2 linked regions of the Homo sapiens genome follow. The protein of the gene in region 1 interacts with the protein of each later gene in a biochemical or structural test. Each region holds a gene or a part of one and is shown in the gene's direction. Other genes may lie near its edges.

Region 1 (3,749 bases):
GGCCTTCTCCTTCCTGGCCAGGGTCCCCCAGAAGTGGGGAAACACCAGACTCCCTGCTCCCATTGGCTTTTAGGGAAGATGGGCTGGCTCTGGACACATCCCGAGGCCACAGTGGGGACTGGGCTAAGGAGGCCCTGTGGGCAGGGAGCTGAGCCTTGGTGGATGGGTGGGGGTGGAGCAGGCTGGCACTGCTTCCTTTGTGGGCTAGAGGCTTGTGGATCAGAATAGTAACAGCTAACATTTATTGAGCATTTATTATGTGCCAGGCCCAGTTTTAAGGGCTTCCATGTACAACTCATACGTTCTTCACAAAGCCCTGTGAGGTGTAGATGAGGTATAGGAGTTATTCTTCCCGTTTTACAGATTGATGGAGCTGTGGCTTAGATAGTTGTTCAAGGTCAAATAGCTAGGCTGTGGGGGAGTCAGGATTCAAACCTAGGCAGTGTGGGTCAGAGCCATGTTCCTGAAGGCCATGCCAGGCAGCCTGTAGTTTCTCAGAGGCCATACTCTGTTTTGTTCAAGTTGAAATAGTCACTCAGTCAGATGCATCCCTCTCCTCAAAGGCCTCCCAGTCTAGCTGGGAGAGATGCAGACATGACACACTAAAAGTAAAGAGTGTGCTATTGCATAGGCTCAGCATGGATTCCTATTTTGGTGCTCAGGGAAGGCTTCAAGAAGACGGGGACCTTTGAGCTGGGCACTGAAGGCCAAGTCGGATTTCGATGGTTGAAGGGGGAAGGGCACCCACTTCCCCAGGTCAGAGGGGAAGGAAATAGGAATGCCTCTGAAGAAGAGTGGGCGGTCTGATGTGCGTGGAACAGATAGTGTGTGTGGCGGAGTGTGAGCTGGGAGGTGACTCAGAAAGTCACCTAGTGTTTGGGTTTTTGATGGAGCTCTGGAATCCACCAGACGTAGGCTATAGTCACAGCAATGCATTGTATTAGCCACGTGGCCTTGGGCACATCACTCAGCTGGCCCAAACCTCAGTTTCCTCATTCGTAAAATGCAGATAAACATGCCTGTCTCACAGGGACCATGTTGTGGTTGTTATATAAAGCACCTAGTGTAATGCTAACACATTGCAGGAACTCAGTAAACATTACTTCTCTCCCGCTTCTGTCTCTCTTAAATGTCAGGCCAAGGTGTTTCGACTTGACGTGAGCCGGGATGCTCTAGGAATCTTTGCAGGATTTTAGTCTGCTGAGGAGCATGACAGAACTGTGTTTTGGGAAGGTCCTTTTGGCAACCGTATGATCCACAGGAGAGGGTGGACGTGATCTTACAGGAGAAACCTTAACTGTGGGGACTTGGAGGGCTGGGGAGGGATCAAGATTGGCACTCATTAAGGTGTCCCTCTGGTAGTGGGTGGTTCGCCAGGTTGGAGAAGGAGGAGCTTGGAGTGGGTAAGGCCACAGGGTCAGGAATTCTGTTTCAGGCCTGGTGAGTTTGAGAAGGGCTGGTCTCCCTTTAGTCATCTGGAAGATTGGGTAGCATCTTTTTTGCACATCTGGCCTGTTTTTCCTTTGAATTATTTCTTTTGAATAAATCCCCATCAGAGCTTCCTCTATAATAGCAGTAAATTGGGACTAAGTGTCCAACAATAGGAAGATGATTGGGAAAGCTTTGGAACATCCACTGGATAAAATAATACGCAGTGGTGAACACCCACAGAAAAACTGCTTGCAGTGGATGGAGCTGTGCAATTGCAAAGCTCTTTTGCATCCTTGATTCATTTTGTGCTTATGACTGCTCTGCGACAGAGGTGGGGCCGGGGCTAGATCCTTTCTGTGTTTGAAGAGAATGACGCTAGACTCCAGTCTCCTTGAAGGCAGAGTTGAGTTCACATTTTATTCATTGTTTCGTCGCAGCATGTTGCTCAGTGGTTTGCAAATACTTGTCCGATGAAAGAATGAGTGAACTAATCAAGAGGGGAAGTGACTTGATCAAGGTCACTCAAGTTGTAAGACATAGTGCCTGCCATATTCTTGCTATTCCCTACTTGCCACATTCTTCTCACTAACCACTCACTATCTTCGAGGGGAATAGGACAGAGAGGTTCCCAGTGAGGACCTGGCACTTGCATAGAACAGGGTTTAAGTCTTCTTTCTGTTTTTACTAGCTGTGAGGCAATTGGCAAGTTAATTAATCTTTCAAAGCCCCAGTTTGCCCAGCTGTAATGTGGATAGTCCAAGTACCTGGTTTTAGGGTTGTCATCAAGATTGAATAAGTTAAGGCATGTAAACATCTTGGCATGGTAACTAGTACATAGTGAAGTATCCATGAACATTAGTGGAGATGATGATGATGTCATGATGTGATGTCATTAATGGTCTGATACAATTAATGTTAAATGGGAAAGAAGACCCATAAGATTATCAGTATTCATATTACAATGGTATAAAATTAGGTATGAACATAGATACAGATTGGAAGAAAACAGGTAGAAAATGGAGTTCCAGCAAGCATATGGGAAGTGAATAAAACAGAAAAACAAATATTTCTTTACTGTTATATTTACTTTTCTTTAGTTTTAATTACAAAAAAAATTTGTGGAAAATCTAATAATTCAGAAGTGTAGGCCAGGCACGGTGGCTCATGCCTATAATCCCAGCACTCTGGGAGGCTGAGGCGGGTAGATCACCTGAGGTCAGGAGTTCAAGACCAGCCTGGCCAACATGGTGAAACCCCATTTCTACTAAAAATACAAAAAGTTAGCCGGGCATGGTGGCTGGCGCCTGTAATCCCAGCTACTCAGGAGGCTGAGGCAAGAGAATCTCTTGCACCCGGAAGGCAGAGGTTGTGGGGCAGTGAGCCGAGATTGCGCCATTGCACTCCAGCCTGGGTGACAGAGCGAGACTCCGTCACAAAAAAAAAAAAGAAAGAAAGAAAGAAAAAAAGTGTATTCTCCCCTTAGATCCCCAAACAAATCCTACTCTCCAGTCGTAGCTAATAACAGCATGTTGTGTATCCTTCCAGGATATTTTCTATACCAACATAAACATACAAACCAGAATGGGATCATACATTGCATTATTGTTTTACAACTTGCATTTTTCATGTAACTACACATTGACATCTTTTTATGTCAGTAGATATAAAATCTATCTCAAAAATTTTTGCAATAGGTATGTTATACTTTCATAATTAAATTTTTAATGGATAAACCCTACTAATTTGGCCAGCCCCCCTGTTGATTGACATTTGAAGTTGTTTCCAATTTTACGGTATTCTAAGTAACGCTAACTGAACTCTAACAGTATTTAGACAATTAGTGAAAATCAAGTGAGAGAAGGAGTCAGAAACCATGAGACCGTGAGAGTTGCCCTCAAAGGTCTGCTGCTTCTCCCTTCTCCTGTTCCCTCCTCTCCTCACTGGAGCCTGGGGGAACTGGTCTTGGAGGAGGCCATCTCTCTGTCACCCTCAAAAGGTGGTGATGTCCCAGGGAAAGACCCTTTCTTTCACCCACCCAGTATGGAGCTCTCCTAGGAAATTTTCAAATTCTCTTAGGATGCTCTAAGCTGCTGCTTGGGCTGTGCAGCTGCCCACACCCAGACTGTCCTTGGACAAGCTTTCTACCTTCTCTGTACCTCAGTTTGTCCATCTGTCTGGTGGTGATCAGAGCCATTGCTGCCACTGAGTGTCTTCTATATGTCAAATACTGTGCTAGAGCAAGCTTCATGTGCATTATCTGTTTTTCTATTTTTTCTTTTTATTTTATTCTTCTTATTTTTTTGTTTGTTTGTTTTTTG
Region 2 (3,749 bases), on another chromosome or scaffold:
CTCTTCTGTGTTTCAGCACCTCCTCCCAGGGTCTGCCCTGGGAACCAGTGGGTTAGGGAGGAGCTCCTCTTCTATTCTTTTTCCAGAGGGAAGAACCTGCCACTGTCAGAGCCCTGGTCTCCCTGTCTGGGGCCAGGACCCGCGTTTGGGGATGTGCTTTAAGGGAGATGCCAACTGAAGTATTTTTGTCTTGCTAGCTCCGTTGCTAAGCAACCACTGAGCGGCAGCAACAGCTGGGGGAGAGTGGCTGGGATGGGAGGCCTGGGGACCACCCTCAAACCTGTCTGTTGCACACACCTCTCCAGTGCAGGCAGGGTTGGGGGGGGGTTGGAAAGCTGCAGAGGGAGGAGGGGTGGCTCAGTGTTGGGGGTCCTTCTGAGCCAGGAGCCTCCCCTCTTACTGCCCTTCTCCCGTTACAGAGGCTGTGATCAATAGCCAGGAATGGACTTTGAGCCGCTCCATTCCTGAACTGCGCCTGGTAGGTAACCCAGTCCCCTTGCCTATAGGGAAGGCTGACCTCCCACCCACTGCACTCTCAGCTCTCTCCCTTCACCTCTCCTTCTCTCTCTCTCTCTCTTTGGGAATAGGGAATCGTTTTCCAGTTCTCCTGAGAGTCTGCCTTCATAGCACCAACATGGGGTTTGCTACAGCCTCCTCACAAGTTTTTCCTATCTAGTCTTTATGCAGCCATCCCCTTTTTCCTGTTTGTTCATGGTCCTCCTCCAGGCTTCTCATTTCTGGTATCTGCCCTTTGGCCTTCATGTTGTACTGCCTAGAATTGGGTAAAGTTTTCCAACTAGTGCCTAGAGCTGTGACATGCTACAAACACACACACACAGAGACACACACACACAACATATCTAGTATGTTTTCTAAACAACCCAACACACAAAAAAGCTGGTACTGAATTGCTGACATTCTTCAGCTCGTGCTCCACTTTGAGCTTGGGATCATTTCTTACCACACTCATGCCCTGATCCTCCCAACTGCTCTGATCCCCCCAGCTGCTCTGATCCTCCCAACTGCTCTCTCTGGAATGACTGTCATCCAGGCCCTGTAGGGTCCTGCTTGGATGACTTATCTCTCTGGGTTTTCTGGAGTGTCCAGACCCATGCATCCTGCCTTCTCTTATATCCCACAATTTCTGCTCCACAACCTTGCCCTCAGGGTGTGCTGGGCGATGCCAGGAGTGGGAAGTCATCGCTCATCCACCGATTCCTGACTGGCTCATACCAGGTGCTGGAGAAGACAGAGAGTGAGTTCTGAAGAGCCATAGTAAGCTAACCATTGGGGTCAGGGATCCAGGAGTGAGATCAATGATTAGGCAGGTGTGGAGACCAGGGGGGAAGGATGAGGCCATAATAGCAAAAGCACTGGGAGCATGGGGAGGTTTGGTGACCTGTCACCTCTGACCTGTTACCCCTTCCAACTCTTCTGGACAGGTGAGCAGTACAAGAAAGAAATGTTGGTGGATGGACAGACACATCTGGTGCTAATCCGAGAGGAAGCTGGGGCACCTGATGCCAAGGTGAGGGTGGAGGTGGTGGGGGACAGGCTGGCTGGGGTCAGCACTGGCCAAAGGAGAGGGCTCTGGTTTCCCAGGTCTTCATCTGGATTGGGTCCAGAGGAGTAGACCTGTCTGACTTTCCATTTGCTCCCTCACTCCCCGCAAGTTCTCAGGCTGGGCAGATGCTGTGATCTTCGTCTTCAGCCTGGAGGATGAGAACAGTTTCCAGGCTGTGAGCCGTCTCCATGGGCAGCTGAGTTCCCTTCGCGGGGAGGGACGAGGAGGCCTGGCCTTGGCACTGGTGGGGACACAAGGTAAGGAGGGGTTAGGAAAGCACTGCTTTCAAGGGAGGCCCTAAGGAGGCTACTGGGATATTGCCCAACATGGGTGAGAACTTGGTAAGGTGTGGAAATGGCCACTTGGATTATAGTACCCTTCTGGAGGGAGCCTGGTCTCCAAATAAGGGAGTCATGAAACCAAACAATAACTTCCCAAGGTCTGAGCAGAGAAAAGGGGATCTCCAGGGAGGAAAGGACAGCTATAGTAGCCATCTCCTTGCCTCTCCTGAAATGTCACCTACCTTGTGTTCTGACACTGCCATTTCCTAGTGCCACCATCCTAGGACACAGAAAATCTCAAGTCCTAGGGTGGATAGGAAACCTTTTCCATCTTCCTTTTTGCGACAGCTGGGTAAGGCTGACACCTTTTAAAGGAACTTATCCAAAAACAAAGTGAAAACACAAAGGAAATGATGATGAAAAGAAGAGAGCAGAAAACCTTTTAGTTCTCAGAGAAGTGACTCAGAGGCTCCCAGACTCTGCCAGGGCCAGGAAATGCTTTTCCAGCACTCCCCTGTGTCGAGCTGGTGGGACTTGGTCTGGATGCCTGTTCTGCTGGTGCCTATCTCCACCTGTTGCTTGCATCCTGGTTTCTTGCTGCAGAGTGGGCAGTCCAGCCATGACCCATGGGCACCCAACCTTTTCCTAGTTCACAAGCTGGTGTCCTCCCACCAGTTCAGGGTTCTATGGATTTGCAGGGCAGGGTGATTGTCGCTCGCGCCTGGGTCTCAGCTATGTAGACCTTGTCAGGAAGCACCACTCAGCAGCTCTGGAGTATTCCTTGAGGACACACACACACACACACACACACACACAGCTCACCCAGCTAGGTGTGTGAACTGGGCCCAGTACTCAGAAAGGGCTTATGTACTCCCATTCCACCTGGTCACAGAAAAGATGATCTCTCACACCCCATCCCCAGTGGACCCAGCCTGAGGGCCCAGTGCAAGGATAAGGGAATTGTGAAAAATCGAACAAGGTGGGGCTCCTTGTTCAATCCTGCCCCTTTCCTGTCCCCTCAGACAGGATCAGTGCTTCCTCCCCTCGGGTGGTGGGAGATGCTCGTGCCAGAGCTCTGTGCGCGGACATGAAACGCTGCAGCTACTATGAGACTTGTGCAACCTATGGGCTCAATGTGGATCGGGTCTTCCAGGAGGGTGAGTGTAGTGATCTCCAGCATATGTGGGAAGCCAGAGCAAGGGGCCTGGGATATTCTCAGTGGTCAGGCATCCAGGCCTCTCTCTGTGAGTGACAGGAAATTAGCCTTTGTGGGAGGGAGGAGAGATCAGGGAGGCCAGAGAAGGTTTGCTTAATAGTCGCAAGGTCTTTCTGGGCTGGAGGAGCTGGCAAGGCCACAGGTGGCATGGAGGCCACAGTGACAAGGAAGTTGGGTCCTGTGTTGTCTACTGGGGATTTCTCAAAGCTGGGCATGGAAGGGTGGTCTTGGGTATCTGGCCTGCTCACACCTCCTTCCGTCAACTCCCCTCAGTGGCCCAGAAGGTGGTGACCTTGCGCAAGCAGCAACAGCTTCTGGCTGCCTGCAAGTCCCTGCCCAGCTCCCCAAGCCACTCAGCTGCATCCACTCCGGTAGCTGGCCAGGTGAGTTGGGGTTTCAGAGTCTGCAGAGGGGCCGGTAAGATGCAGAGGGGCTGGGGATCCTAGGACAGGTACAGAGTACCCAAGGAGGTTCAGGGAGTGGGGAAACAGATGGAAATGGCAGTGAAACTATTGGCAGAAAGTGCATTGGACTGGAAATCAACCAGATTTGAGACATCATTTGCAGTGTCCTTAAGCAACTCACCTAACCTCCCAAGGCTATCAGGAAGATTGTATGACACAATACTTGTGAATCAACCTTTACAACATTTAAAGCATTGTCACAATGTTAGTGAGGATTTTAAAAA

The links. The genes of interacting proteins can lie anywhere in the genome.
Region 2: the proteins of EPB41L1 (region 1) and AGAP2 form a complex in vitro, tested with the Homo sapiens proteins (one study listed by BioGRID).

Annotation. Positions count from the first base shown.
Region 1 is NC_000020.11:36,157,725-36,161,473, forward strand, and holds part of EPB41L1 (band 4.1-like protein 1), read left to right. Parts: intron 1-3,749. UniProt on the Homo sapiens protein: May function to confer stability and plasticity to neuronal membrane via multiple interactions, including the spectrin-actin-based cytoskeleton, integral membrane channels and membrane-associated guanylate kinases.
Region 2 is NC_000012.12:57,732,098-57,735,846, reverse strand, and holds part of AGAP2 (arf-GAP with GTPase, ANK repeat and PH domain-containing protein 2), read left to right. Parts: intron 1-419; coding exon 420-478; intron 479-1,167; coding exon 1,168-1,255; intron 1,256-1,442; coding exon 1,443-1,528; intron 1,529-1,673; coding exon 1,674-1,821; intron 1,822-2,867; coding exon 2,868-3,002; intron 3,003-3,334; coding exon 3,335-3,444; intron 3,445-3,749. UniProt on the Homo sapiens protein: GTPase-activating protein (GAP) for ARF1 and ARF5, which also shows strong GTPase activity. Isoform 1 participates in the prevention of neuronal apoptosis by enhancing PI3 kinase activity.